Linked DNA regions of Homo sapiens. The protein of the gene in region 1 purifies or fractionates together with the protein of each later gene. This does not show direct contact. Each region holds a gene or a part of one and is shown in the gene's direction. Other genes may lie near its edges. The genes, in order: ATIC, SDSL, TRNT1, MSN, ALDH16A1, IPO5 and RBBP6.

Evidence for each region.
Region 2: the proteins of ATIC (region 1) and SDSL fractionate together in Homo sapiens (co-fractionation; one large-scale study listed by BioGRID). This does not show direct contact.
Region 3: the proteins of ATIC (region 1) and TRNT1 fractionate together in Homo sapiens (co-fractionation; one large-scale study listed by BioGRID). This does not show direct contact.
Region 4: the proteins of ATIC (region 1) and MSN fractionate together in Homo sapiens (co-fractionation; one large-scale study listed by BioGRID). This does not show direct contact.
Region 5: the proteins of ATIC (region 1) and ALDH16A1 fractionate together in Homo sapiens (co-fractionation; one large-scale study listed by BioGRID). This does not show direct contact.
Region 6: the proteins of ATIC (region 1) and IPO5 fractionate together in Homo sapiens (co-fractionation; one large-scale study listed by BioGRID). This does not show direct contact.
Region 7: the proteins of ATIC (region 1) and RBBP6 fractionate together in Homo sapiens (co-fractionation; one large-scale study listed by BioGRID). This does not show direct contact.

Annotation. Positions count from the first base shown.
Region 1 is NC_000002.12:215,321,549-215,325,921, forward strand, and holds part of ATIC (bifunctional purine biosynthesis protein ATIC), read left to right. Parts: intron 1-3,692; coding exon 3,693-3,781; intron 3,782-4,373. UniProt on the Homo sapiens protein: Bifunctional enzyme that catalyzes the last two steps of purine biosynthesis.
Region 2 is NC_000012.12:113,425,107-113,429,479, forward strand, and holds part of SDSL (serine dehydratase-like), read left to right. Parts: intron 1-790; exon of another isoform or gene 791-1,863; coding exon of another isoform or gene 1,864-1,881; intron 1,882-2,023; exon of another isoform or gene 2,024-2,145; intron 2,146-2,855; coding exon of another isoform or gene 2,856-2,876; coding exon 2,877-3,050; intron 3,051-3,313; coding exon 3,314-3,353; intron 3,354-4,053; coding exon 4,054-4,193; intron 4,194-4,373. UniProt on the Homo sapiens protein: Catalyzes the pyridoxal-phosphate-dependent dehydrative deamination of L-threonine and L-serine to ammonia and alpha-ketobutyrate and pyruvate, respectively. Also exhibits racemase activity towards L-glutamate and D-glutamate.
Region 3 is NC_000003.12:3,146,648-3,150,312, forward strand, and holds the end of TRNT1 (CCA tRNA nucleotidyltransferase 1, mitochondrial), read left to right. Parts: intron 1-802; coding exon 803-1,056; intron 1,057-1,258; coding exon 1,259-1,507; 3' UTR 1,508-2,376; downstream 2,377-3,665. UniProt on the Homo sapiens protein: Nucleotidyltransferase that catalyzes the addition and repair of the essential 3'-terminal CCA sequence in tRNAs, which is necessary for the attachment of amino acids to the 3' terminus of tRNA molecules, using CTP and ATP as substrates. tRNA 3'-terminal CCA addition is required both for tRNA processing and repair.
Region 4 is NC_000023.11:65,673,649-65,678,021, forward strand, and holds part of MSN (moesin), read left to right. Parts: intron 1-4,373. UniProt on the Homo sapiens protein: Ezrin-radixin-moesin (ERM) family protein that connects the actin cytoskeleton to the plasma membrane and thereby regulates the structure and function of specific domains of the cell cortex.
Region 5 is NC_000019.10:49,462,870-49,467,242, forward strand, and holds part of ALDH16A1 (aldehyde dehydrogenase family 16 member A1), read left to right. Parts: intron 1-984; coding exon 985-1,080; intron 1,081-1,257; coding exon 1,258-1,394; intron 1,395-1,547; coding exon 1,548-1,653; intron 1,654-1,762; coding exon 1,763-1,893; intron 1,894-2,868; coding exon 2,869-3,036; intron 3,037-3,212; coding exon 3,213-3,414; intron 3,415-4,373.
Region 6 is NC_000013.11:97,959,593-97,963,965, forward strand, and holds part of IPO5 (importin-5), read left to right. Parts: intron 1-754; exon of another isoform or gene 755-811; intron 812-3,567; exon of another isoform or gene 3,568-3,690; intron 3,691-4,373. UniProt on the Homo sapiens protein: Functions in nuclear protein import as nuclear transport receptor. Serves as receptor for nuclear localization signals (NLS) in cargo substrates.
Region 7 is NC_000016.10:24,559,873-24,564,245, forward strand, and holds part of RBBP6 (E3 ubiquitin-protein ligase RBBP6), read left to right. Parts: intron 1-1,739; coding exon 1,740-1,843; intron 1,844-1,951; coding exon 1,952-2,289; intron 2,290-3,326; coding exon 3,327-3,423; intron 3,424-3,550; coding exon 3,551-3,629; intron 3,630-3,737; coding exon 3,738-3,792; intron 3,793-4,373. UniProt on the Homo sapiens protein: E3 ubiquitin-protein ligase which promotes ubiquitination of YBX1, leading to its degradation by the proteasome.

The DNA of each region.
Region 1 (4,373 bases):
TGCGACCCTGTATTTCAGAGTGCTGCACCATTTTACATTTCCAGCAGCAGTGTGCTGGATGGGGCTCCAGTTTCTCCACATCCTCATCAACGTTACTATCTGTCTTTTTGATTCTAGTCATTCTAGGGGTTCTGAAGTGGCATCTCATTGTGGTTATAATTTGCTTTCCAAATAATGTGGAACACCGTTGGATGTGCTTCCTAGCCAGTTGTTTACCTCCTTTGGAGAAATGTCTGTTGAGACCTCTTGTCCATTTTTAGTTGAGGTATTTATCTGTTTATTATTGAGTTGTAAGTTTATTTCCTCTCATTCTATGGATTGTGTTAGCCTTTCTTGATGGTTTCCTTTGATCATCACAAGTTTTTTCTTTTTTTTGAGACGGAGTCTTACTCTCGCCCAGGCTGGAGCACAGTGGCGTCATCTTGGCTCACTGCAACCTCCACCTCCCGGATTCAAGCGATTCTGCCTCAGTCTCATGAGTAGCTGGGGTTACAGGTGCCCGCCACCACACTTGGCTAATTTTTTTGGATTTTTAATAGAGATAGGGTTTCACTATGTTGGCCAGGTTGGTCTTGAATTCCTGACCTCGGGTTATCTGCCCGCCTTGGCCTCCCAAAGTGCTGGGATTACAGGCTTGAGCCACCATGCCCGGCCCACAAAAGTTTTTAATTTTGATGATGTTGAATTTATTTTTTCTTTTGTTGCTTGTGTTAATGGTGTCATGTCTAAGAAACCATTGCCTAATCCTCAGTGATGAAGATTTTTGTGTATATTTTCTTTCTTTTTTTTTTTTTTTTTGAGATGGAGTTTCGCTCTTGTTGCCCAGGCTGGAGTGCAGTGGCGTGATCTCGGCTCACTGCAACCTTCGCCTCCTGGGTTCAAGCGATTCTCATGCCTCAGCCTCGCAAGTAGCTGTGATTACAGGTGCCCGCCACCACGCCCAGCTAATTTTTTTGTGTTTTTAGTAGAGACGGGGTTTCTCCATGTTGGCCAGGCTGGTCTTGAACTCCTGACCTCAGGTGATCCACCTGCCTCGGTCTCCCAAAGTGCTGGGATTACAAGTGTGAGCCACCGCACCCGGCGTGTGTACATTTCTTTTAAGAGTTATTTTAGTGTTAGCTCTTATACTTAAGTCTTTGGTTCATTTTAAGTTAATTTTCATATACAGACATGAAATAGAAGTCTTATTTTATTTTGTATGTGGCTGTCTAGTTGTCTCAGCATCATTTGTTGAAAAGACTGTTCTTTGCCCAATCGAATGGTCTTGGCACCCTTGGTCCATGTGCCTGCTGTTATGCCAGTACTACACTATTACTATAGGCTGGTAACAAATTTTGAAATCAGCAAGTGTGAGTCCTCCAACTTCATTTTTCTGTTTTTTGTTTGTTTGTTTGTTTTGTTTTGTTTTGTTTTTGAGACGGAGTCTGGCTCTGTTGCCCAGGCTGGAGTGCAGTGGCGCGATCTTGGCTCACTGCAAGCTCTGCCTCCCGGGTTCACGCCCTTCTCCTGCCTCAGCCTCCCGAGTAGCTGGGACTATAGGCGCCCGCTACCATGCGCAGCTAATTTTTTTGTATTTTTAGTAGAGACAGGGTTTCACCGTGTTCGCCAGGATGGTCTCGATCTCCTGACCTCGTGATCCGCCCGCCTCGGCCTCCCAAAGTGCTAGGATTACAGGCGTGAGCCACTGCGCCCGGCCCCAACTTCGTTTTTTTTATTCAAGATGACTTTGACTCTTCAGAGTCCCTTGCATTTCCACATGATTTTTAGAATCAGCTTGTCCATTTCTGCAAAACAACGCAGTTGGAATTTTCATAGGTATTGTGTTGAATCTGTAGATCAATTTGGGAAATGTTACCATCCTAAGAATATTAAATCTTCCAGTCTGTGAACATGGGGTGTCTTTAATTTCTTTAACATTGTCTTGTGAAGTAGAATTGTTTTCTTAATTTTTTTCTCATTCACTGCTAATGTATATTTTAATACAATTGATTTTTATATATTGATCATATATCCTGCGGCTTTGCTGAACTCATTTATTAGTGCTAAAAGGTTATTTTTGTGAATTTGGGATTTTCTGTATACTAGGTGGTATCATCTGCAAATAGATATAACTTCACTGCTTTCTTTCCAGTCCTGATGCCTTTTATTTTCTTTTCTTTGCTAATTGCTCTGGCTAGAACTTCTAGTACAGTGTTCAGTAGAAGTGGTAAGAATGGACATTATTGTTTTGTTTCTTTTTTTTAAGATGGCGTTTTGCTCTTGTTGCCCAAGGCGGAGTGCAGTTGCGTGATCTTGGCTCACTGTGACCTCCGCCTCCCGGGTTTAAGTGATTATCTTGCTTCAGCCTGGGGTTACAGGCATGTGCCACCTTGCCTGGCTAATTTTGTATTTTTAGTAGAGATGGGGTTTCTCCATGTTGGTCAGGCTGGTCTTGAACTTCCAACCTCAGTTGATCCATCCTCCTGAGCCTCCCAAAGTGCTGGGATTGCAGGCGTGCGCCACCTTGCCCGGCTAATTTTTGTATTTTTAGTAGAGATGGGGTTTTACCATATTGGCCACGCTGGTCTCGAACTTCTGACCTCAGGTGATCTGCCTGGCTCAGCCTCCCAAAGTGCTGGGATTATAGGCATGAGCCACTGCGCCTGGCCTCTTGTCTTGTTTCTGAGTTGAGTAGACAAGTATTTTAGTCTTTCACCATCAAGTATGATGTTAGCTGTGGGTTTTTCTTACACTTTGTCATGTTCAGTAAGTTCCCTTCTATTTTTAATTTGCTGAGTGTTTCTATATGAATACCTGTTGAATTGTGTCAGATCCTTTTTGTACATCTATTGAGATGATCAGGTGGTTTTTGCATTTTTCTGGATTCAGTTTGTTAGTGTTTTGTTGAGAGTTTTTGTGTGAAGATACCTAAGAGATACTGGTCTCTAGTTTTCTTGTGACATTTGTCTGGTTTTAGTAGGAGGGCAGTAGACTTAATAAAGATGAGCTGCAAAATGTTTCCCCTCCAATTCTGTTCTTCTGTTTTTGTTTTTGTTTTTTTTAATTAGTTTTCAGCAGTTAGGCTTGTTTGGAGCCTGCCCGTAGAGCTCCTCGCACTACAGGCCTAGGAGTGGAACTGTACTTCACTGATTGTTAATTTTAGATTACTTCTGTATTTTAAATTATTCTTTTGGCATTCCTGTTACCATCATTTTTATGACCTCTCTGAAGGCAAAACAAATGTTTCACCCTTAGAATGCTCTGATATTTTTCATCATTGTGCCAATCCACTGGAAAAAGAATCTAAATTCTAATGTTCTGGATAATAGTGATCACATTCCAAAATGAGAATGTTATCTGTAATCTTGTACTTTATACTTCTATTAAAATGTTCTATAAATTTTTCATGGCTTGGTGGTTCTGGGTAGCTAAGGTTATGCAAGCAGCAGCGTTGCAGTGTGACGTGGAGGGAGTACTGTGTATTCAGATCCGGGGAGCACCTGCTGACTAAATTACCTCTGCTCGACCCCAGCAGGACACCCTGACTTTTTAACACACTCGTTAGAATTCTAAAATGTCAGGCTCACAGTTTATATATTAGTTCTCTATGGCTTTTGTTTACGTTAATAGTACTGACTTGTTTTTTTCCTAGATAGCTGTAAACCACATGAGTGGACTTTTTAATGACAGCCAGATTCGTCTTTGTTTTATAGAGTTGTTGCCTGCAATCTCTATCCCTTTGTAAAGACAGTGGCTTCTCCAGGTGTAACTGTTGAGGAGGCTGTGGAGCAAATTGACATTGGTAAGTCAGAAAAACCATTTTAGAAGACTGAGAGGAGAGGATTATTTAAATTTTAGTGAGATTTCATTTTGAATTTTATTACTGAGGAAATAGAAAGAAAATAGCTACTTCTGGATTGTGTTTTGGGATTACTATAATTCATTTATATTTTCTTTTTTTCATTTATATTTTCTAAGCTTTTTTTGTATGCAGAGATGCATCTGGGTTATTTTCCTGATTTATTTATTTATTTATTTTATTTTTATTTTTTTGAGATGAAGTCTTGCTGTGTCACCCAGGCTGGAGTACAGTGGCACAGTTTTGGCTGACTGCAACCTCTGCCTCCTGGGCTCAAGTGATTCTCTTGCCTCAGCCTCCTGAGTAGCTGGGATTACAGGTGCACACCACCACGCCTGGCTAATTTTTTTTGTATTTTTTATAGAGATGGAATTTCGCCATGTTGGCCAGAGTGGTCTCGAACTCCTGACCTCAGGTGATCCACCTGCCTCAGCCTCCCAAAGTGCTGGGATTCCAGGCATGAGCCACTGCGCCCAGCTTATTTTCCTGATTTTTAAGTCAGGAATTAAAATGGAAGTACATGCACAATGACTTT
Region 2 (4,373 bases), on another chromosome or scaffold:
GGAAACAGGCACAGAGAGGTTGTGACACTTGTTTGGGTCACACAGCCAGGAAGTCGGAGCTGGTTTCTAACTTTTGCTTCTGGTCGACCCCAAAGCCTGTGCTCTTGGGGTCCAGGGTTGAGCTGAGGCCTAGGCTGGGGTATGCGGCATTTGGGGATCAGTGATGACCCATGGGCTTCTTTCCCCTGATGCCCGAAGCTGAGAGGTGCCCTGGGTGGGACTGGGAAGAGGTGGCTCAGGCTGTGCCCTGCCCGAGGGGGCCCTGAGGATTCTCAAGGCTATTCTGACAAGGGCGTGGGGTCAAACTCAGGGCCAAGAGACCCTGATCTCTCTGATCTTGGAACCCCAGCCATGACTTAAGGGTGGACAAGAAGGTTAGGTTTGTGAGTGGGCAGGGGAAGTTGCAGCGCCCCCCCTAGCGGCCAATAATGGAATGGTGGGGACCGGCCCAGTGCTTTTCTGCCTGGGACAAGAGGAGCTGGCTGTATTTTTTCCTTTTTTTTTCTCTACTATTTTTCCTCCCTCTCATTTCCTCCATCTCTTCTTTTCGTCCTTACCCACTGGTCCATTCACACACAGCTCCTCGGCTTCAAACCTCTCAAAGGGCTGAGCGCGGTGGCTCACGGATGTAGTCCCAGCACTTCGGGAGGCCGAGGTGGGCAGATCACTTGAGCTCAGGAGTTTGAGACCAGCCAACATGGTGAAACCCCGTCTCTACAAAAAATACAAAAAATTAATCAGGCGTGGTGACGTGTGCCTGTGGTCCCAGTTACTCGGGAGGCTGAGGCAGGAGAATCGCTTGAACCCGGGAGGCAGAGGGTGCAGTGAGCAGAGATTGCACCACTGCACTCCAGCCTGGGCAAGAGCGAGACTCCCTTTCAAAACACCACGACCACCACCAACACCACCACCACCTCCACCACCACCTCCCAATGGCTTTCCATTGCAGGTAGAATTTGAATAACAACCAAACTCCTCTCCGTGGGCGGGAACCCCCTGCTGGCACCCTTGTCCACATCTCCGCCCTCACCCCCTACCCTCACCTCCTGCCCCAAACCCCTTCTGTCTGCATCCGCGGCACCCCAAAGTGCATTTCTCCCTCGAGGTGGTCCTGGCTGCTGTTCTCTGTAGGAACTTTTCCTCTTGGCTCTCTTCCTGTCATCCATTTCAAAGTTCCCCTTTCAAGAACGTACAGATGGAGGCAGAGTTAAAAGACCCCTCAGCCAATCAAAATGCACGGATCTGATTTGCATCCTGATTCAAACCGTGAAAAACCCCAAACCACAACCAACCACAGAATCAGCCACTGATCATATTTAATGGGATGATTTGAAATGTGAACAATTAACAGATATTTGATGATATGAAAAAATTATATTTTTAGATGTGATCATAGTATTGTGATTACATTTTTAAAAAAATTAGCCTCAGTGAGGTATAATTTACATAAAATAAAATTAGCCCACTTTAAGTATAGAATTCAATGTGTTTGAACAAATGTATGTACAGTCATGAAACCATATGGTTACATATAAAAAAGGAGTTCTTAGGCCAGATGCAGTGACTCGCGCCTGTAATCCCAGCAGTTTGGGAGGCTGGGGCAGGAGGATCCCTTGAGCCTAGGAGTTTGAGACCAGCCTGGGCAACATAGTGAGACCCTATCTCTACAAAAAAGTACAAAAATTAGCCAGACGTGGTGATGTGTGCCTGTAGTCCCAGCTACTCAGGAGGCTGAGGTGGGAGGACTGCTTGAGCCTGAGAGGTCGAGGCTGCAGAGAGCTGTGATTACAGTACTGCACTCCAGCCTGGGTGACAGAGTGAGACTCTGTCTCAAAAACACAAGTTCTTTACCTCCAGAGAGACATGCTGAAATATTTACAGGTGAAATAATATAAAAGAATAATAGTAATTAAGGGGTAAATAATGACACAGGAAGGGGGAGTGGGCACCGATAGGGGAGCGAGTTAGACCATGAGTTGATTGCTGAAGCTGAAGGGTTTTTGTTTGTTTGTTTGTTTTTGAGACGGAGTCTCGATCTGTCACCCAGGCTGGAGTGCAGTGGCACAACCTTGGCTCACTGCAACCTCCGCCTCCCAGGTTCAAGTGATTCTCCTGCCTCAGCCTTCTGAGTAGCTGGAATTACAAGTGTGTGTACCATCATGCCTGGCTAATTTTTGTATTTTTAGTAGAGACAGGGTTTTACCTTGTTGGCCAGGCTGGTCTCGAACTCCTGACCTCAAGTGATCTGCCTGCCTTGGCCTCCCAAAATGCTGGGATTACAGGCGTGAGCCGCTGTGCCCCTGCCAGCTGAAGGTCTTTATACAGTTCTCAATACTTTTGCTATGTTTACATTTTCCATAACAAACGTTTTTACAAAGTTTTCCTCCTGAGAGATGTCTTTCATGATTGCTTTTGCTAAAATAACACCCCATACCCTCTGCAAGTCACTCCTATTTGAAATTCTGTGACTTTTCCTAGTGGGAGGTTTTTTATGACTCGTGGGTCCCCAAACCTGGAAATGCCTGGCACATAGTAGGTGCTGAATAAGTATTTTTTGACTGAGGAATGAATTCTCCCACTCTCTCATTCATTTCTCACCATATATTGGCCACTTTCTACATCCCCAGCACAGCCACACTTATGGAATGAAAGGACCCCAGGCCAAACTTCTTTGACCAGATGGGGAAACTGAGGCCCAGAGAGTCACAGATACTTGATGGGGGTCTCACAGCTCAGCAGCTGGATGAAGTGAAGGGCACCTAAGCCAAGGGCTTTCTCCACCTTCCCCTCCCTGTCCTGGTTAAGGGAACTCTTGATGGGGACTGCCTGGGTGGTGACTTTGTGTCCTCCTGCAGGCTGTCTACCTGGTCTCCAGAATGGACGGCCCTGTGGCAGAGCATGCCAAGCAGGAGCCCTTTCACGTGGTCACACCTCTGTTGGAGAGCTGGGCGCTGTCCCAGGTGGCGGGCATGCCTGTCTTCCTCAAGTGTGAGAATGTGCAGCCCAGCGGCTCCTTCAAGATTCGGGGCATTGGGCATTTCTGCCAGGAGGTGAGGGTGTGTGGGAAGGAGGGGAGAAGTGAGGTTGTGCAGGAGGGAGGGAAGAGTGAGGGGTGTGGGCTGGGGACGGGTTCGGGCAGGAGGGGAAACATGAACTCGTGCAGATGGGAGGGGAAAGGTAAGGGCAGGGCTGTGGGCAGGATGAGGGGTAAAGGCGTATTGGGAGTGGGATGGGGAGACTCTAACGCCATTCCACATAGGCCTTCATGACACCTGCTTGGGTTAGCCGCTAACCCCATTCCTTCTCTTCCCAGATGGCCAAGAAGGGATGCAGACACCTGGTGTGCTCCTCAGGTGACCCCACCTTTTTTTGTTTCATGGGCAGAGGTTGGGGGAGGAGGAATAGGCTGGAGCGGCAGTACACATCCAGGGTTGGTCTCCTCTTAAAGGCCCAGCCTCATCAAGGTCATTGATGAGATGACTACTGTGTACATCCCATCCTAGCCTTCTCCCATAGTTCAGGACTCATGATGGTAGCAAGTGCCAGAAACCCAATTCATATAGGTTTAAGCTACAGGCTCTAAGAATGGAAAATTCTTGGGATAAGTGGCTTTCAGGCACAGGGGGATCCAGGAGCTCTCCTCTCTGTCTCTCCTTCTCTGGACTTTGCTTTCCTGCATATTAGCTTTATTTTTAGGTGGGCCTCATGGTAGCAAGATGGCCACCAGGAATTCCAGCCTTGCATCCTACCAGCCTCCCAACCCTAGGGAAAAGGGAGCACCCCTTCTCGATGCCTCGCCTCAATCCTGGAATTGTTTTTTTTTTTTGGCCCCGCTTGGGTGGCGTCTTCATCCTTGAACCAATCATGGGTTGGGGGATTAGGTTCTGATTGGCTCAACCTAAATTATGTGTCCCCCTCTTGAGTGGAGGAAGGAGTCAATGGGGCATATGAATGTTGGGGACGAGTGACTCTGAAGGGATATGGAGGGGGAGGGGAAGGCATATCAAAGGCCAATCAGCTCTGCCCACTGCCCCTTTCCTCCTTTCTGCACAGGGGGTAATGCGGGCATCGCTGCTGCCTATGCTGCTAGGAAGCTGGGCATTCCTGCCACCATCGTGCTCCCCGAGAGCACCTCCCTGCAGGTGGTGCAGAGGCTGCAGGGGGAGGGGGCCGAGGTTCAGCTGACTGGAAAGGTAAGGGCTCTGGGAAGGGGAGAACCATCTGGGTGGGCTGCTCTCCTTCACCTCACCCCACCCCTAAGACATCCTGTCTCCTTTTCCTTTCGATGAGCTGTGGCTGGGACCCAGTCCTCTCTCAGGATAGCTGAGCTGAGGGGGGAATGAGGTGGGATGGGTGTTGAGGGCTGGGATCTC
Region 3 (3,665 bases), on another chromosome or scaffold:
GAATTTTTGGCAGTGAAATATCTGGTTTCAAATTTCATAAGGAAAAAATGTTTGACTCATTTGGTTGAAGAATTCTTGGAGAAATGGAGTATTTTAAAATAAGACAAAGTTTGGGTTATGGGGTAAGTTTTGTCGTGAGTAGGGAAGAGCTCAAAGACAGCTTGTGGTGCTTGTAGAGTAGTCTCTAGTCAGACCTAGGTTTGAAGGAAGCTCAGCCCCTTATCTAGTCTTTGCAACTTGGGTTAGTTTCTAACCCAAAAAAGCGGTTTAAAAGTAATGTAGCCTCTATCTAATAGGAAAGCTAAAAGGATTCAGTGAGTTAATACATGTAAAGCTCTTTTAGAAGAGTGACTTGTACACAGAAATTGTTCAGTAAACGTTGTAATTCATTTTCACAGAGAATAGTGGGATTATATGGTTTATCACACTTCGGTAAGCTTGGGCATATTTCAAATTTCAGTAACATTACTGAATGGGGGGTGGATCTTGTATCAGTGTAAAGTCAGGAATTTGTGATTAGAAAGAGTATGCCTTGTGAGTCTGACACCACTGTCACCACTACCCCTGGAACTCTTGATGTAGCTTTAATGGAAACAAGAACATTTTAGAGGTTTTGAAGGTGACAGGGGAGAGAATAACAATATATTAGTGGTTCGCCTTTAAGTTGGAACATCAGACTGAACCTATATAATGTATCCTAGTGACAAAGCATTTCTGGATACTAAAATGGTGGCAAGGTTTAGGATATGAGTGGTTTTTTATCCCCACTAAAAACAGGTGAAAAATGCTTTTGTCCCTACAGGTTTACCTGCTAATGCAAGTTTAGAAGAATTTGACAAAGTCAGTAAAAATGTTGATGGTTTTTCACCAAAGCCAGTGACTCTTTTGGCCTCATTATTCAAAGTACAAGATGATGTCACAAAATTGGATTTGAGGTTGAAGATCGCAAAAGAGGAGAAAAACCTTGGCTTATTTATAGTTAAAAATAGGAAAGATTTAATTAAAGCAACAGATAGTTCAGACCCATTGAAACCCTATCAAGACTTCATTATAGATGTAAGTATATACTAGGCTTGGTCAGAAATATGAAGTATCGTCACGAATTTAGAATTAATTTATTAAAACTAAGATCTACAAATCTGTGAATTTTACTTATTTTAAATGAAAAAATTTATGTTGAGTATTTAAATTTTAGGATAAGATTGTAAGTGTATGTTTTCATGTGTGACGAAACTAAATGTTTGATTTTGACACGTAGTCTAGGGAACCTGATGCAACTACTCGTGTATGTGAACTACTGAAGTACCAAGGAGAGCACTGTCTCCTAAAGGAAATGCAGCAGTGGTCCATTCCTCCATTTCCTGTAAGTGGCCATGACATCAGAAAAGTGGGCATTTCTTCAGGAAAAGAAATTGGGGCTCTATTACAACAGTTGCGAGAACAGTGGAAAAAAAGTGGTTACCAAATGGAAAAAGATGAACTTCTGAGTTACATAAAGAAGACCTAAAACTGATGGCTACTAAAAAGCAGAGCATTTCTGGTAAGACTAAATTTTCTCCCCTCCCTCTTAATGAGGTTTTAGAGACTACACCAGAATAAAAGACAGTTTAGGGGACCTCTGTAGAACAACAAGGGTCTTATTTTGTGAATTATATATTTCAAGAACTAAACAGAGATCCACCTTTCTGGATCTGATTTATATCACTGAAATGTACAGTTCTTTTGGAATAGTTTCACCTGAGAAAACATAGTTGGCTATTATCTATCTTAACCTGTTCAGGCTTTTAAAAAAAACTGTTTTTGCATAGGGTAGTACTAAGATCTTAAAAAGTGGTAACTGTCTTGAAGAAAAAACGTTTATTGTTTGTTTGCAATTGAAATAACAGGGTTACCTTAACAATGACTGTCTATGATGTGTCAGTTCTTATCTGAATTCCAAAATAAACCTGTGCTTAAAAAAGAAATAATTGACCAAGTAAGTTTGCATAAAATGTGAATACTAAATGTGTCCCCAGTTGCTGGCATTCATATGTACAGGATTTGTTCTAGCAAGCTATGCTTCAGTATGTGGTTGATATTTTTCTGTCACAATGATTTCTTTATGCATGCAGAGCCTGGGGAAGTCATGGGATTAACTTGAGGGTCACTATTGAGCCTATTAATTAATTATTGTTTTAATAAAACAAACATTGGTATTGGAAGATAAATATGTTTATGTGGTATCTGACAATGTGTATTAGGTGTCATATACAATGGTAATATGCCTGTCTTTAAAGTGTTATTTTATTAATTAAAAGGATATGGCTATTATTATATATTCTCTAAAGATTTGAGTCCTAAATGCTTTCATCAGGTAAATAAAATGTATAATACAAACTGTTTATTTCAGCTGCTATAATTTCAGCTGCTATACTGACATTTCATAATTTATTTCCTTTCTGTGTAGCCAGTCATAACATCTTTGTACTCTATGAGCAAATAGTAATTTTGGACCTTGATAAAACAATTTTGTAGAGTGTAATATTTCTAAGAGGAAATGTCACAGGGGCTATGATGCAAGAAAGCCTCAGAAATGACTGCATACAGGTCAGTAATTAGATGCATTATAAAATAATACTTTGAAATACTTACTTAAAATATTTAAGTACTGCCAAAATACAGATTTAGACCCAACGTCATATAATACATACTATTTCTGTATAGAAAGTATGCAGATTTAGCTATCAGGTCTGGTTTTGTCATGTGTAAAACCATTTTCAGTAGTAGTATAGTATATGTGTGTTTTTACAGATCAGAAAATTTTATTTGCTAGTAAACGGTATGGGACATACTGAAATTTTAACTTTTCAGAGGGACAAGGTAACTCATTGCAACTGGTTTAGAGTTCAGCCTACAGAGAGGTACTATGCTACTGACAGGAACTTCCTGGAGTAAGTAAGTTTTAGTGCAGTGTAAGAACTATAGGAACAAACCAGACCAGTGAAGTCACACAAACCCAAAATTATTAAAGTAGTAAAAGTAGACCTTAGAAAAAATAAGGCAGGGGCATATCCTGATTGGAAGTATTCTTGAATTTTCATTTACTCTATTTACATAAATATGCAGTGTGACACTCAACTGATTTCACTCCACCTTCAAGGCATGTATTTTGGCCTCATACTATTACTACATTTGAGTAAACATTTAACCTGATTAGTTTTAAAGTAGCAAAGGACTACCAATAAAACGAAAGTTATCATACAAATGTGGAAGGAAGGACCCACTAAACCCTTGAATATAAGCAAAGAGGTAGGTGGCAAAGCAGCCTTTTTAGAACTTTAAAATTATGAGTAGATATTTTACATTATTTGAACAAAGAACATGTTTAGTTTCACACTTAAGGTTTACTTACTTACAGATTTTCTTCAATTTACATTGAACAAAATAATACAGTATCAAGTTTAGTCTGGGTGAGGGGACATGTTTTGGCATCTTTTCCCTATAGTAGTAGTTTTGGTTCAAATTAATTTTTGAAAAATAGCTTTTGTATGGAACAGTATAAATGGGCTTATAGTTCAGATACTGAGCAAATACACAATACTACTTTTTACTAACAGGCACATAAAGGAAATGACAACTATTCGTGGGCTCAAAAAACTGCATATTTTAACTAATTTTCAAAATTT
Region 4 (4,373 bases), on another chromosome or scaffold:
GCATTTGCATCTAGGGCAACCCAGAGCTTCCCTAGCCTTAAGCTTTCCTTTAGCTGGTTGTTCTGGATGGGCAGGGTTTCTCACAGGAGTGTTTTGAACCATGGAACAACTGAGCTGGCCTTAAATCTTCTGCCTCAGCCTTTATCTTCTTGATGGGGGCACTAAAGTCCAGAAAAGGGAAAGGATTTGAGTGAACTGGTGATAGTGCCAGGACTAAAACCTAACTTGCTTGGCTCCAGTGTAGGGGAGGGATGGTGAATGCCTACCTTCTAAATGGCACTCACTGTGAGGTGCTCAGTGTCTTCTCCCTCTGTGCTGGTGGTGACATGACCGTGGAGTTATGGCCATGGGAAGAGCAAGTTCCTCTGAGTGTGTAGAGCTGATCTCATGGGTTTCTTTATTTGGAAATGGCTCAGGCTCTGACCTTGTCTCAGGAACTCTTTGTAGCACTTCCCAGGAAGGTAAGTGTTTTGCTTTGGCTTGTGACGGGTGGTGGAAGGCATATGTGTAGGCTGAAGGGAGGTAGAGAGAGGACACTAGTCACATTTTCCTGCTTGAGACTAGGCCTTGCTGTCCTAAGAAACTTTAGAGAGTAATTTCTTCATCGTATTCATAGCCAGAGGGGTTAGGCAGCTTGTTCGAGGTCACATATAGTTGGTAACAGTATTGAAAGGAGAACTTGGATTTCCTAATTCCCAAGTTAGTGGTCTCCCACTGGACTTGGCTGTCTTAGAAGGATGACTCCACCCAGAGAGCACAGACTTCCAGAGAACTGGCTCTGTGGTGATTACATTAACAAGATGGGTACAATGGAGTTCCCCTAAAATGGTTTTGCTATAGCAAGTTTTTCTGGGATCTCCGATGACTGTCTTCTCTTCCTGTCTACCCCTCACCCCAGTTCCCTGCTTTCTCTTTGCCCTGTTTAATTTTGAGCTCTGACCTTTTTGAATTCTGAATTCTGACTCAGCGCTCCAGCTTGATCTGTCCCTTGAGTTAGGAGAACAGTATGGCACTTTTTCAATTTAGTGACAGTATTTGCTGCTGTAGCAAATTGTTTGAATGCAGACTAGAATCTCCTGGCCTCAAAGTTCACCACTCACCTCTAGGTGCTTATAGGCCAAGCCTGGGGCAGGAAGCTAAAAAAAGACCTTTCAAGCCTCCGTGGAAAGGAAGCATAGAGTAGTGTTGAAAAACAGACTCTGGAACTAGACTGCCTGGACTCAAATCTAGCTCTGCGACCAACTAGTTATATAGCCTTGGACAAGTTATTTAACTTCTGCACCTCATTTTCCTTAACCATAAATAATAATAGTACTTACAGAGTTGCTGTGAGGATTACATGAGGTAATTTATGTAAAGGGCTTAGAACTGTGCCTAGAATCTAACAAGTGATATACAAATGTTATGATTATTTACTGAATTTTACTATATGCCTAACTTTGTGCTAGATGGGATGGATAAGAAAGAAGACAGGTAGTTGAATTCTTACCATTTAATGAGTGGTTACTATGTACTATTTACCATAAGGGATAGAAATAAATGAAGGGATGATACAACTGCTGCCTTCAAAGATCTCCTATCTCCTATTTAATTGGGGATTTAGGGCTAATTCACTTAAAAACGGCTTGAGAAAAATATATACTTTGCATTGCATTTTCTACAACTTTTTGAGGAGAAAGGGTTTACTGGGACATGAACAGGGCCTTAAAGGGTGTGTACACTTGGGAGCAGTGGCCGTTCTGGGTGGGAAAGTGATGTGTTTTTGGTATGTGGGTGTAAACCAATGGCCCTAGACCAATGCTCTCTTGAAAGTTACTTTATCTGAAGTGAAGGGAGGCTTGAGCTGCTGACTGATTCAAGGGGAGCCACAGATATAAGCATAGATGAAGCTACTCTTTCTAGGGTAATTTGGATCCAACAATCCTTTCTTAATTGGCAAACAAGGGCCTGTGGGGGAGACCATACCTTTGGTTTTCCAGAATTGGGCAAATTAATTTTTTTTTTTTTGAGATGGAGTCTAGCTCTGTTGCCCAGGCTGGAGTGCAATGGTGCAATCTTGGCTCACTGCAACCTCCGCCTCCTGGGTTCAAGCGATTCTCGTTCCTCAGCCTCCCAAATAGCTGGGATTACAGGCATGCGCCACCACGCCCAGCCAATTTTTGTATTTTTAGTAGAGATGGGGTTTCACCATGTTGGCCAGGCTGGTCTTGAACTTCTGACCTCAGGTGATCCACCCGCCTCAGCCTCCCAAAGTGGTGGGATTACAGGTGTGAGCCACCACGCCCAGCCTGGGCAAATTAATTTTTAAAAATGTTGCTTTTGTTGCCTAAGTAGGTATGTGAGAGGGTCTTTTCTTCATGCTTACACATGAACTAAACCAAAGAATAGAGCTTGGCAATAACTTTATGTCAGCAGCCTAGAAACAGCTTTTAATTCTCTCATTGACTTTGCTATAAAATCAGGTATTTGGGAAAGGGTGGAGATGGCAGGGAGGATTTCTCAGTGTGTGGTTGTTAGAGGTGGAGGAGTATGACGTTTTCTGGCCAGGGCACAGCTGCAGCATCTGGGTCTTGAATTTGGAGAAAAGGCCTTTTGGGCGACTTTCAAAGCACAGCCCTTTGTCTGTGCCTAATGACACAGATACCAGATCTGATGCTCCTTTCAATCGGCTTGTTGTGGCATAAGGTAAGTGTTGACATAGCTCTTAGGCCACTAATATGGCAAATGGCTCTGTGCTTGCTTAGTAGAACTGTTTTGCCAGTTATCTTCTGTGATTGGTGACTTCGAATATTGAAGTTTCTTCCCATTCCTGGCAACCCTTCTACCTTGTGGGAATTTGATAGATACTTTGTGCATCCAGGGTAGTGATCAGGGCCTAATGAGAGAAGAGTTGAGATATGACAATTTGGTTGTACAAAACAAGATATAATCCTGAAAATTTTTTTCCTGGGTATATATTTGGGAAGTGACTGGGGCCAAGGCCTAGGAGGGGGAACAAGGCATACCTGTCAGGCTTGATCAGTATTTCTTTCCCTCTCTTTAGCCTTGGCCTCCATTAAATACCTGAGAAGGATCAAGTCTTATTTTTCTCAAGTTGTGTGTTTAGATAAGGTTCCTGATCTTACTTTCGTGATCTAATCTGCCTTCCCTCCAACCCATGATCCATTTCCTTTTTTTTCTTTTCTTTTTTTTTTGAGACGGAGTCTTGCTCTGTTGCCCAGGCTGGAGTGCAGTGGCATGACTTTGGCTCACTGCAACCTCCATCTCCTGGGTTCAAGAGATTCTCCTGCCTCAGCCACCCAAGTAGCTGGGACTACAGGTGTGCGCCGCCACGCCCGGCTAATTTTTATATTTTTTTTAGTAGAGATGAGGTTTCACCATGTTGGCCAGGCTGGTCTTGAACTCCTGACCTCGGGTGATCTGCCTGCTTCAGCCTCCCAAAGTGCTGGGATTACAAGCGTGAGGCACTGCGCCTGGCTGATCCATTTATTTTTTCAGATTCTCAGCCTGGATGTTTGATGAAGCTCACCAAGAGCCTCTTTTATCTGTTGTAATTTTTAACTGAGGTTGACTAATCTATGGTATAGAGTTGGAGGGTGAGGGTCAAGGTAACAGTCAATCTGGGCATCATTAGTTAAGTCGTACAAATCTTTGCTATTTTCAAGGGTTTTAAGTGAGCTAAACTCCTCTCCAAACATCCTTGTAGATACTTGTGGGAGACTGACTAATTCCTTTACAAAGAAGAAAAGTCACATAACTTCTTTGCCTTTTAATTTTCTTTTTCTCCAACATGAAAATATCAGCAATATTAGAAAGAGGCACATGGAGTTTGCGTGTGGTGGCTCATGCCTGTAATCCCAGCACTTTGAGAGGCTGAGGCAGGTGGATCATTTGAGGTCAGGAATTTGAGACCAGCCTGGCCAATATGGTGAAACCTTGTCTCTACTAAAAATAGAAAAAATAGCCGGGCGTGTTGGCGGGAGCCTGTAATCCCAGCTACTTGGGAGGCTGAGGCAGGAGAATCACTTGAACCTGGGAGGTGGAGGTTACAGTGAGCTGAGATCACGCCATTGCACTCCAGCCTGGGTGACAAAGCAAGACTCTGTCTAAAAAAAAAGAAAAAAAAAAAGAAATATGTAAATGGAAAAGAACAAACCCCCCTCCCAGGTTCCTTATTCCCCTTGGTGCCTGGGCCATTGTAGATCTAGCATATGCTTGGTGGGGACATCTGCCATTTGCTTTAGGGTTACACTACATCTTTCTACTTTGAGTGCTTGAAGAGTTGCTCCAGCAGGGCCTGATGTGGGCCTGGTGAAAATCTAGCCTAGTTGCCTTTCTGTCTGCCATAGCCTGGGCATTTTCCTAAGGTTGGG
Region 5 (4,373 bases), on another chromosome or scaffold:
GGGCTGGGAGCCTGGACTCCTGGGTCTGAAGGAGGAGGGGCTGGGCCTGGACTCCTGGGTCTGAGGGAGGAGGTGCTGGGGCCTGGATTCCTGGGTCTGAGGGAGGAGGGGCTGGGGCCTGGACTCCTGGGTCTGAGGGAGGAGGGGCTGGGCCTGGACTCCTGGGTCTGAGGGAGGAGGTGCTGGGGCCCGGATTCCTGGGTCTGAGGGAGGAGGGGCTGGGGCCCGGATTCCTGGGTCTGAGGGAGGAGGGGCTGGGGGTCCAGACTCCTGGGTCTGAGGGAGGAGGGGCTGGCGGCCTGGACTCCTGGGTCTGAGGGAGGAGAGGCTGGGGGTCCAGACTCCTGGGTCTGAGGGAGGAGGGGCTGGGGGCCTGGACTCCTGGGTCTGAGGGAGGAGGGGCTGGGCCTGGACTCCTGGGTCTGAGGGAGGAGGTGCTGGGGCCTGGATTCCTGGGTCTGAGGGAGGAGGGGCTGGGGCCTGGACTCCTGGGTCTGAGGGAGGAGGGGCTGGGGGTCCAGATTCCTGGGTCTGAGGGAGGAGGGGCTGGGGGCCTGGACTCCTGGGTCTGAGGGAGGAGAGGCTGGGGGTCCAGACTCCTGGGTCTGAGGGAGGAGGGGCTGGGGGCCTGGACTCCTGGGTCTGAGGGAGGAGGGGCTGGGCCTGGACTCCTGGGTCTGAGGGAGGAGGTGCTGGGGCCTGGATTCCTGGGTCTGAGGGAGGAGGGGCTGGGGCCTGGACTCCTGGGTCTGAGGGAGGAGGGGCTGGGGGTCCAGACTCCTGGGTCTGAGGGAGGAGGGGCTGGGGGCCTGGACTCCTGGGTCTGAGGGAGGAGAGGCTGGGGGTCCAGACTCCTGGGTCTGAGGGAGGAGGGGCTGGGGGCCTGGACTCCTGGGTCTGAGGGAGGAGGGGCTGGGGTCCTGCAGTCCTCGGTCTCAGCAGGAAGGGACCAGAAGTCGACTTCTAGATCATTTCTCTCCCTAGGTGTTCCAGGCTGGTGATGTGCCTTCGGAACGCCCATTCTATCCCCCAACCTTGGTCTCCAACCTGCCCCCAGCCTCCCCATGTGCCCAGGTGGAGGTGAGACCCTTAAGGCTGCAGAGCTCCTACCCACCGCCAGCCAAGGGCAGCAGCTCTGTGCCTGGGGAAGCCCTTGGGGTAACCATGTGACCTGGGCGTGGGGGCTGCTGCCTGCTCTAGGCTCCTTCCCTGGTGGGTGGGCCCTGGAGGGCTGAGCCTCCCGGTCACCCCTTGCAGGTGCCGTGGCCTGTGGTCGTGGCCTCCCCCTTCCGCACAGCCAAGGAGGCACTGTTGGTGGCCAACGGGACGCCCCGCGGGGGCAGCGCCAGTGTGTGGAGCGAGAGGCTGGGGCAGGCGCTGGAGCTGGGCTATGGGTCAGTCTGCGTGGCCCGGGCGCTCACTCCTCTCCTCATTCTTCCATCTTCATCTCCCTTCTCCCTGGGTCGCTCCCCGCGCCTTTAACTCACCCCTCTCCCGGCCTGCCACCGTCTGTTTTCCTCTGTTGGACACCTTCATCTTCCCCACAGGCTCCAGGTGGGCACTGTCTGGATCAACGCCCACGGCCTCAGAGACCCTTCGGTGCCCACAGGCGGCTGCAAGGAGAGTGGGTGTTCCTGGCACGGGGGCCCAGACGTGAGTACATCCCCTCCCCGTCACCAGCCCCCCCGCCGCCCCATGCCCTTGACACTCGCATCCGGCCTCGCGTGCCCCTTGCATCCTCTTGACACCGTCCCTCTCACAGGGGCTGTATGAGTATCTGCGGCCCTCAGGGACCCCTGCCCGGCTGTCCTGCCTCTCCAAGAACCTGAACTATGACACCTTTGGCCTCGCTGTTCCCTCAACCCTGCCGGCTGGGCCTGAAATAGGGCCCAGGTGAGTCGTTGGGGGCCAGTGGTCTGGGAGTGTGAACGGGGAGAGGGGAATTGATGCCTGTTTCCCCGTGGACTGGAGGGCTGGCGCGAGGTCCATCCAAACCATCTCTTAGTCCTGCTGAGTACCACGTTGTGGCCTCACACTTTCCCTACCCCAGGCCTGCCGAGACTCTCAGCTCTGCCCCATGAATGTCTGTACTCTCCCAGAAACTCATGGGTCTAGGAGCTTGGGGTCCCCCAGAGGTTCACTGGAGCAGAAGCTTGGGGTCCCTCAGAGGCTCATGGGAGCAGGAGCTTGGGGTCCCCCAGAGGCTCATGGGAGCAGAAACTTGGGGTCCTCCAGAGGCTCATGGGAGCAGGAGTTTGAGGTCCCCCCAGAGACTCAAGGGAGCAGTTTAGGGTCTACCAGAGGCTCATGGGAGCAGGAGCTTAGGGTCCCCCAGAGGCTCATGGAGCAGGAACTTAGGGTCCTCCAGAGGCTCATGGGAGCAGAAGCTTTGGGTCCTCCGGGGCTCATGGGAACAGGAATTTGGGGTGCCCCACAGGCTTATGAGAGCAGTTTAGGGTCTGCCAGAGGCTCATGGGAGTAGGAGTTTAGGGTCCCCCAGAGGCTCATGGGAGCAGGAGTTTAGGGTACCCAGAGGCTAGTGGGAACAGGGGTTTGGGGTCCCCCAGAGGCTCATGGGAGCAGAAACTTGAGTCATCCAGAGGCTCATGGGAGCAGGAATTTGGGGTTCCCCAGAGGCTCATGGGAGCAGTTTAAGGTCCCCCAGAGGCTCATGGGAGCTGGAGTTTAGGGTCCCCCAGTGAATCATGGGAGCAGGAGTTTTAGGGTCCCCCAGAGGCTCATGGGAACAGGGGTTTGGGGTGCCCCAGAGGCTCACGGGAGCCAAGGCAGTCTTCCCAGTGCGGTAGAGCATAGGGTCTGAGCAGATTGAGGCCCCAGGACTCCTCCTCATGTCCCACCCTACTCCAGCCCAGCACCCCCCTATGGGCTCTTCGTTGGGGGCCGTTTCCAGGCTCCTGGGGCCCGAAGCTCCAGGCCCATCCGGGATTCGTCTGGCAACCTCCATGGCTACGTGGCTGAGGGTGGAGCCAAGGACATCCGAGGTGCTGTGGAGGCCGCTCACCAGGCTTTCCCTGGGTAAGGGGTCACACGGGAAAGCCCAAGGGTCATGGTGTGGCAGAGAGGGGAGCCTGCCCACAGCAATTGGTGGACTGGGAGGCTGGGCCCCCAGGGTAGGGGCTGTGGACAGAGGTGGGGTGTCAGGAGAGCCAAGACCAGGATGCCAACCCCCACTGTGCGCTGTCTGCCCACAGCTGGGCGGGCCAGTCCCCAGGAGCCCGGGCAGCCCTGCTGTGGGCCCTGGCGGCTGCACTGGAGCGCCGGAAGTCTACCCTGGCCTCGAGGCTGGAGAGGCAGGGAGCGGAGCTCAAGGCTGCGGAGGCGGAGGTGGAGCTGAGCGCAAGACGACTTCGGGCGTGGGGGGCCCGGGTGCAGGCCCAAGGCCACACCCTGCAGGTGAAGGGTCTGTGGGCACCTGGGCCAGCTGGGCAGGCGGGGTGGGGCTCAGACCAGAGGCTGTGAGATAACCCAGGCTTGGAATTCGGGCCCAGCCCCACCGCCTTCCACGGCAGGATCATCAGCAAGTGGCTTCACCTCTCCCTACCTCAGTTCCCTCATCTGTACAGTGAGTGGGCACACAACCCGCCTCGTAGAGTAGCGTTCGCCAGATGATGGATAGCGACCCATTCCTGGACCCTAAAATCAATTTAGTGGGCTGTTAGGCGGTTCTCACATTGCTGTAAAGAAACACCTGGGGGCGCAGTGGCTCACGCCTGTAATCCCAGTACTTCGCGAGGCTGAGGCAGGCGGATCACGAGGTCAGGAGATCGAGACCAGCCTGGGCAACACGGTGAAACCTGGTCTCTACTAAAAATACAAAAAATTAGCTGGGTACGGTGGTGGGCACCTATAGTCCCAGCTACTTAGGAGGCTGAGGCAGGAAAATTGCTTGAACCCAGGAGGCAGTGGTTGCAGTGAGCCGAGATCGTGCCACTGCACTCCAGCCTGAGTGACAGAGTGAGACCTTGTGTCACAAAAAAAAACAAAAAACAAAAAATACCTGGCCAGACATGGTGGCTCACGCCTGTAATCCTAGCACTTTGGGAGGCAAAAGTGGGTGGATCGCTTGAGGCCAGGAGTTTGAAACCAGCCTGGGCAACACAGTGAAACCCTGTCTCCACAAAAAATAGATAAATTAGCTGGGCATGTTGGCACCAGTCTCCCTCTGGCACCCGGCTGGAGTGCAGTGCCACAATCATGGCTCACTGCAGCCTCAACCTCCGAGGTCCAAGTGAGCCCCCCACCTCAGCCTCCTGAGTATCTGGGATCACAGGCACACACCAGCACACATGACTGGGTGTTTTTGTATTTTTGCAGAGACAAGAGACTCGCCATGTTGCCCAGGCTGATCTTGA
Region 6 (4,373 bases), on another chromosome or scaffold:
GTGTGGTGGCGGGCGCCTATAGTCCCAGCTACTTAGGAGGCTGAGCCAGGAGAATTGCTTGAACCCGGGAGGCGTAGGTTGCAGTGAGCCTAGATAGCGCCACTGCACTCCAGCCGGGGTGACGGACTGGGACTCTGTCTCAAAGAAAAGAAAGACTGTGTCCCTAGGGTATGACCCCACTCCAAATCCAGTCATTCGTGATCCCATTATCTTCTTTTTTCACCTATAACTGTATGCAAGTATCTTATCAGTTTACTTGTTTATTATCTGAATTCTTTCAAAAGAGCTAAGCTCCCTGAAGGTGGGAACCCTGTCCGCATGCTCACCGTGGAATCCCCACAGCCTAGCAGCACCTCCCACAGAGGGGTGCCTAATATTTTTCTAAACAAATGAATGAAGAAAATGTTCATTAAACAAATACTACTGCAGTTAAATGTGGCATCAAGCAGTACTACACATAGGATGCATGGAATTGAAGCCTATGAACCATTATAAGGTCCCTTTCATTTGTTCCTCATTAACTGTGGATGACTAAAAATCCATGCTGCCAATAGCTCCAACTATGAGATGCAGATCGATGTCACAATTCAGACTCCATTATGTATGTCCTCACAATGCAGGAGGTGAAATGTGTATGTCATGTGTCCAAATTGTAAGATACTTGCTGTAAGTAGCAAAAAGATGGGAAGGAAAGTCTACAGACCAAATCATATCTGAATCTCCCCATTCTCCCTCTCCACAAATATTGGTTTAGGAATTCTCCGAAGTTTGAAGGTTATGAATGGTTATCACTCAAGGATTCAGAACTAAGGTAAAAATACTGTGAATGATAGGGGGAAAAAATCACTAATTGAGGTCTAAATCAATATCCTTCAGCTCTCTAAGGAAATGTATTTTTAATATAATAGCTTTATTGAGACATTCATACACCATAAAGTCCAAATTTTACTTTTTATTTTATTTATTTGGTTTTTTTTTTTTTTGAGATGGAGTTTCACCCTTGTCACCCAGGCTGGAGTGCAATGGCATGATCTCGGCTCACTGCAACCTCCACCTCCTGGGTTCAAGCAATTCTCCTGCCTCAGCCTCTTGAGTAGCTGGGATTACAGTCGCGCACCACTACGCCCAGCTAACTTTTGTACTTTCAGTAGAGACAGCGTTTCACCATGTTGGTCAAGCTGGTCTCGAACTCCTGACCTCAGGTGATCCACTCGCCTGAGCCTCCCAAAGTGCTGGGATTACAGGCATGAGCCACCTCACCCAGCCTAAAGTTCAACCTTCTAAAGTGTACAATGGAGTGTTTAGTATATTCAGTGGGCTGCACATTCATCACTATCACCCTTTCCTCACCCTAAAAGAAAACTCCATACCTGCTAGCACTCACTGATTCCCCTACCCACCCCATGCCCAGGCACATGGCAAGCACCAATCTACTGTCTATGGATGTGCTGATTCTGGACATTTCCCATAAGTGGGACCAAAAAAATGTGTGGTCTTTTTGTCTGATTTCCTTCAGGCAGTCTAATGAGTTTAAGGTTCACTCATGTTGTTACATGTATCATTACTTTATTCTTTTATTGCGAAGTAATATTTCCTTGTATAGTTAGAAGACATTTTGTTTATCCATTCACCAGTGGATGGACAGTTGAATTGTTTCCACTTTTTGGCTGTGGTGAATAATGTTGCCATGAACATTCATGTACAAGTTTTTGTGTCAACATATGTTGTCTTTTCTCTTGCACATATACCTAGGAGTGAAATTACTGAGTCAAATGGTAACTCAGGCTGGAGTGCAATGGCACGATCTCGGCTCAACGCAACCTCTGCCTCCCAGGTTCAAGTGATTCTCATGCCTCAGCCTCTCGAGTAACTGGAATTACAGGCATGCGTCACCACACCCAGCTTATTCAGACTGTTTTCCAAATTGGCTGTAACATTTTATGTTCCTATTAGCAAAGTATGAGCGTTTGAATTTCTCCACATTCTTGTCAACACTTGCTGTTGCCTTTTTTATTAAAGCCATTTTATTGGGTATGAAGTGGTAACTTACATTGTGGTTTTGATTTGCATTTCTCTAATGATGAATGATGTTGCACATCTTTTCATGTGCTTATTGGCCATTTGTATATTTTCTCTGGAGAAATGTCTATTCAAATGTTTTACCCATTTTTTTAATTGGGTTGTCTTTTTTTAATTGAGAGTAGGGCTTTTTAAATATTCTGGATATAAGTCCCTTATAAGACATATGATTTGTGGCCAGGCGCAGTGGCTCACACCTGTAATCCCAGCACTTTGGGAGACCAAAGTGAGTGGATCACTTGAGGTCAGGAGTTCAAGACCAGCCTGGCCAACACGGCAAAACCCCATCTCTACTAAAAATACAAAAATTAGCTGGGCGTGGGGGCGCACACCTGTAATCCCAGCTAATCTGGAGGCTGAGGCAGGAGAATCACTTGAACCTGGGAGGCAGAGCCTGCAGTGAGCTGAGATCATGCCAATGCATTCCAGCCTGGGTGACAGAGTGAGACTTTGTCTCAAAAAATATACATTATTTGCATATATTTTCTCCCATTCTATGAGTTGTCTTTTCTCTTTCTTGATGGTGTCCTTAAAAGCACAAAGGTTTTAATTTTGTGAAGTTCAATGTATCCATTTTTCTCTTCTGCCTTTTGTGATTTTGATGTCATAGCTAAAAAATGATTGCCTACCCCAAAGCGATGAAGATTTAGTCCTATATTTTCTTGTAAGAATTTTATAGTTTTAGCTCTTACATTTAGTCTATGATCCACTTTGAAGTTTTTATGACGTGAAGTATGGGTCCAGCTTCATTCTAACGCATGTGGATATCAAGTTGTACCGGCAACAATCTTTCCACAGTGAACAGTCATGGCTCCTATATTAGCCAGGGTCCTCAAGAGAAAATGAACCAATAAGAAATAGATGGATGGGCACAGTGGCTCACACCTGTAATCCCAGCACTTTGGGGGGCCCAGGCAGGCAGATCACTTGAGGTCAGGAGTTCGAGACCAGCCTGGCCAACATGGTGAAACCCCTGTCTCTATTAAAAATACAAAAAATTAGCTGGGTATGGTGAGGCACATCCGTAGTCCCAGCTGCTCAGGAGGCTGAGGCACAAGAATCACTTGAGCCTGGGAGGCAGAGGTTGCAGTGAGCCAAGATTGTGCCACTGCACTCCAGCCTGGGTGACAGAGTGAAACTGTCTCAAAAAAAAAAAAAAGGTAGATAGATAGATTTATTTTAAGGAATCTGCTACATAATTATGAGAGATGGAAAGTTCAAATCCTGCAGGGCAGGCTAGCAGGCTGGAAATTCAGGTTTGAGTTGATGTTGTAGTCTTGAGTTTGAAATCTGAAGGGCAAACCAGCAGGTGGAGATTCGGGCAAGGTTTCTGTGCTGTGGTCTTGTAGCAGAATTGTTTCTTCCCCCAGAAACCTCCATCTTTGCTATTAAGGCCTTCAACTGATTAGATGAAGCCCACCCACCTTGTGGAGGGTAATTTGCTTTAGTTAAAGTCAACTGATTATAAATGTTAAATTGTATCCACAGATACTTTCCCAGCAACATCTAGACTGCTGTTTGACCAAACAACGGGGCTCCAACAGCCTAGCCAAGTGAAACATAAAACTAACCATCACAGTATCCTTGTCAAAAATCAGTCTGACAACACATGTAAGGTTTATTTCTGGAGTCACTATTCAATTCCATTGATCTATATGTCTGTCCTTATGCCGGTAACACTTGTGTCTTAATTATTATAGCTTTTTTTTTTTTTTTTGAGACGGAGTCTAGCTCTGTCACCAGGCTAGAGTGCAGTGGTGGAATCTCAGCTCACTGCAATCTCCGCCTCCTGGGTTCAAGCAATTCCCTTGCCTCAGCCTCCCAAGTAGCTGGGACTACAGGCATGCACCCTCACGCCCGGCTAATTTTTTGTATTTTAGTACAGATGGGGTTTCACCATGTTGGCCAGGATGGTCTCGATCTTCTGACCTCATGATCTGCCCGCCTCAGCCTCCCAAAATGCTAGGATTATAGGTGTGAGCCACTGCACCCGGCCATTATTACAGCTTTATAGTAAGCCTTGAATTCAGCAACTGTTAATCCTTTGAATTTTGTTTTTTTCGACTGCTTTGGTTACTCAGAGTCTCTTGCAACTCTAGATGAATTTTTAGAATCAGTTTGTCCAATTTACACTCCCACCAACAGTGTAAAAGCATTCCTATTTCTCCACAGCCTCGCCAGCATCTGTTGTTTCCTGACTTTTTAATGATCACCATTCTAACTGGCATGAGATGATATCTCATTGTGGTTTTGATTTGCATTTCTCTAATGACCAGTGAGGATGAGCTTTTTTT
Region 7 (4,373 bases), on another chromosome or scaffold:
AAATTCTAGAATTGACTTCTGTACCTTCATCAGGGTGACTATACTGAGGTGTTTTTCTTAATATAGACTTTTTGTTTCCTGTATGTTTTAAGTGGTATCCAGAATTTTAAAACTTTTTTGGGCCTTAGATAATTCTGGAAATATTTTTAAGTGGTATCTAAATCTTTTTCCTGGATTGTGAATAGCTTATCCTAATATTTCTAAGTGTATTAACACCTGATTCCTGTAGACAGTTTTTGTTTTTTTTTTTTTTTTTTGAGACAGAGTCTCACTGTCTCCCAGGCTGGAGTGCAGTGGTGTAATCTCGGCTCACTGCATCCTCTGCCTTCTGGCTTCACACAATTCTGCCTCAGCCTCCCAAGTAGCTGGGACTGCAGGTGCCCGCCACCACACCCGGCTAATGTTTTGTATTTTTAGTAGAGACGGGGTTTCACTGTGTTAGCCAGGATGGTCTCGATCTCCTGACCTCGTGATCCGCCCACCTCGGCCTCCCCAAGTGCTGGGATTACAGGCGTGAGCCACCGCGCCCGACATCTGTAGACATATTTATTACCCAGCATTTACCATGCAGTTGTGACTTTTTAAATCACTTATATTAGCACTTAGTTGTTTCCTGCCACTTATCCTAAGTTTGTGCCTTCTTACACAGAAGAAATCAGTGTTACCTGAAAATTTGCTCAAGCCTGCTCTGGCCTTTTTCATTTTTAAAGGTAGTTTTGAAATATACAGTCCTCATACACATGGTTCTGCATCTGCAGATTCAAAACCACAGATCATAAATATTTGGGGGCAAGAAAACAGTAAAAAATAATAGTAAAGACTAATACAGATTTTAAAATAAGAGTATAACAACTATTTACATAGCATTTATATTGCAGCAGGTATTACAAGCAATCTAGAGATTATTTAAAGTATACTGGAGGATGTACATAGTATTATATGCAAATACTATGCCTTTGGGGCAGTTGAGTGACTTGAGCATCTACAGACGTTATCTTCAGAGGGTTCTGGAACCCATCCCCTTTGGATACCTGTAAATCTTTATTTTTTGACCTCTTCAGTGAAGACCAAGGTCAAGAAGAGGTTGCTAAAGACTTGTTTCAGATTATATCTTAGATTTAACATACCACTTGGTATTACTGGAGTTTTACTACATTGAAGCTTAATCTTCGTATCTGTAATTTAGTGTTGCTCCCACGTACTGTGCTGTAGGTCTCTCATTTCCTTGCCTGAATAAAAACCCCAAGTTAGCCATGTAAAATTTTTGTCTTTCTAGACTATCTTATATTTCTCTTTTGTTTTCTACAATATTCCAGTTACTAGCTAAACAAAGAATAGTCTTTGAGAAAGAGTGCTTTTGCTCTCAATTCAGACATTTGTTTAAAAAAAAAAAAAGATGGGGTGGGGGATCCTTGCTATTTTGCCCCAGGCTAGCCTTGAACTTCTAGGCTCAAGTGATTCTCCTGTCCCAGCCTCCCCAGGAGTGGGGATTACAGGCACATGCCAGCACACCCAGCTGTGACTTCTTTTTAGCGTAGCATAGGTCATATAGAAAAGAGCAGAGGAGTACTGTAAGATGAGAGATTTTACTTAAGTTTCTTAATCTAAGAAATGATTAGCACGACATGCTTGGAAAACAGTAATGTAACTGAACAAATGTGGACCATCCTTTTAATTCATTTCGTAAACACTTTGAGTTCCTACTATGCTTTTATTAATATTTGAAATCTTATACATAGGTATAAGAACAGCACTCCTGGAATCAGATGAGCACACATGTCCGACGTGTCATCAAAATGATGTTTCTCCTGATGCTTTAATTGCCAATAAATTTTTACGACAGGTAACTGTCTGTATCCATTTTATGAAAAAATTCTTTTTAACTGATTTAACTGTACTTCAGTGAATACTGCATAACATTTTTCTGCATTATTATGCTTGGTATCTGTAGGCTGTAAATAACTTCAAAAATGAAACTGGCTATACAAAAAGACTACGAAAACAGTTACCTCCTCCACCACCCCCAATACCACCTCCGAGACCACTGATTCAGAGGAACCTACAACCTCTGATGAGATCTCCGATATCAAGACAACAAGATCCTCTTATGATTCCAGTGACATCTTCATCAACTCACCCAGCTCCGTCTATATCTTCATTAACTTCTAATCAGTCTTCCTTGGCCCCTCCTGTGTCTGGAAATCCGTCTTCTGCTCCAGCTCCTGTACCTGATATAACTGCAACAGTATCCATATCAGTTCATTCAGAAAAATCAGATGGACCTTTTCGGTAAGCCTGTGTGTTTTTCACTGTTAGAAACCAAATGAGGTCAATGATGTAGTGTTTTGTTGTTGGTTATCACTTTTAACAGCTTTCTTAGTGGACCACTGTGCTCAGTAATGTGGGATGACTTGTAAGAAGTGACTTAGTCTTATTGGGGGAAGAGGAAAACAAACGTGATTGATTTGGCAAATGAGGATTAAGCATCCTGAGGTCAAATACTACACAGGTTGCCAACCAGCCCCTATTAAACGTTGAATGTTCCATATACCATAACAGCTCTGAACTTAACAGAGGTGGGAGAATTCACTTGTGATCATAATGATAGTTTTGGATAGGAGTAGTTTTGAGTAGAACTAAGAACAGTTTAGATAGGTAGAGAAGAGGGGGTAAAAACACAGGTAAGTAGAGAAGTCAGGAATAGTGATTGTTTTGGAGCATAATTATTATGTAGGAGAATAGTGAAAACTCACAGCCTACCACTTCAGAAATGAGACTTTTGTCCATGTAGTTTAATGTCTCATAAATTCTTTAAAAAAAAAAAAAAAAGGTGTAAGAGGCCCATTTCAGACACACTGAAGCAAAATCTTTAGGATGAGACCTTTACATTTACATTTAAGAAATTCCACTGATCTGGTGGAATTTATTTGGTTGATAGTGGAAATAGGCCCAGAGAGTTCTATGGCTGACCCAAGATTATCCTTTCAGTTTAGTGGTAGAACTAGAGCTAAAACTTAACTCTTAATCCTAGGGGGATTTTTGTCTTCATAGGCCAGACTTTGATTTTAAGTTTTACTATTCTTGCAACTGATTTCTGTCATAACTGTAGTATCTTCTTAAGGAGGTCCTTCATTTTACTTTTCCACTTACTACATATAGAGAACTCTTCAAAGTTTCAGCCTTCTCTCACTTTCCTCAGAAGTATTCATCATCTTTGACTTAACTCATCTTAACTGCAGGTGATGGGTAAACAGCAGCAAACTTTTTTACTCTTAATTGTCCATTTCTGATAATTTTTAATGTATTATAATTTATGTTTTTTAAAGGGATTCTGATAATAAAATATTGCCAGCTGCAGCTCTTGCATCAGAGCACTCAAAGGGAACCTCCTCAATTGCAATTACCGCTCTTATGGAAGAGAAGGTAAATTTTACTGGTGCTTTAATTTGGGATTTTTTTTACAGCAGGGTTTTGTTTTTCTGGCTTTGTTCTTACCTCTTTTTTTTTTTTTTTTTTAACTATTTCTGTTTATTTGTGGTTGTTTCTAAAGGGTTACCAGGTGCCTGTTCTTGGAACCCCATCTTTGCTTGGACAGTCATTATTGCATGGACAGTTGATCCCCACAACTGGTGAGTAAGATCACTTTGGTTTAGACCTTTTTCCCTTTAAAAAATAATTTTAGCTTGATTTAATGTGCAATTTTGTATTTACCTACTGCTTTTATTTTTTGTTTCTAGGTCCAGTAAGAATAAATACTGCTCGTCCAGGTGGTGGTCGACCAGGCTGGGAACAGTGAGTAGATGTTTACAATAATCTTCAGATGATTGCCTGCAAACTAGATAATGGAAGGTCCAAACTAGGCAAACTAGATAATGGAAGGTCCAAACTAGGCAGCGGGTCGCTGCTCTTTATTGTAAACTTTCATGTGCCAGATTAACATTTTTTATGTAAAATGTCAAAATTCAAGCTTATATGAGGGTTTTTTTTAAATGAGCAAATCTTTTCTAAAATACAAAATTTTAAAAGTTTTTTTCTACTTTCATATCCAACAAATGGGGATCTTGACAGGACTTCAGTTTAATGAATAGATAAGAATTACTTGAAAAGTTATTTTAAATATGGTGGCAGTTATTTTCCTAGTAGGTTTAACTTTTTCTACCCTTAATTTGGATGATCAAAGTTTGATTTGAGTACATAAATACATAATAAGATTAACGTCTACCAAACAAAAATTTTTTGTCTGAAATCGAGTTGTTCTTGCCACCCTAAAATACAAAGAACTTTGATTTTCTCTGTGGGATATTTTATGGCATTAAAAATCAGCAGACTTACTTAATGTATTTTTAGTTATATAATTATTTCTGTTTATATAA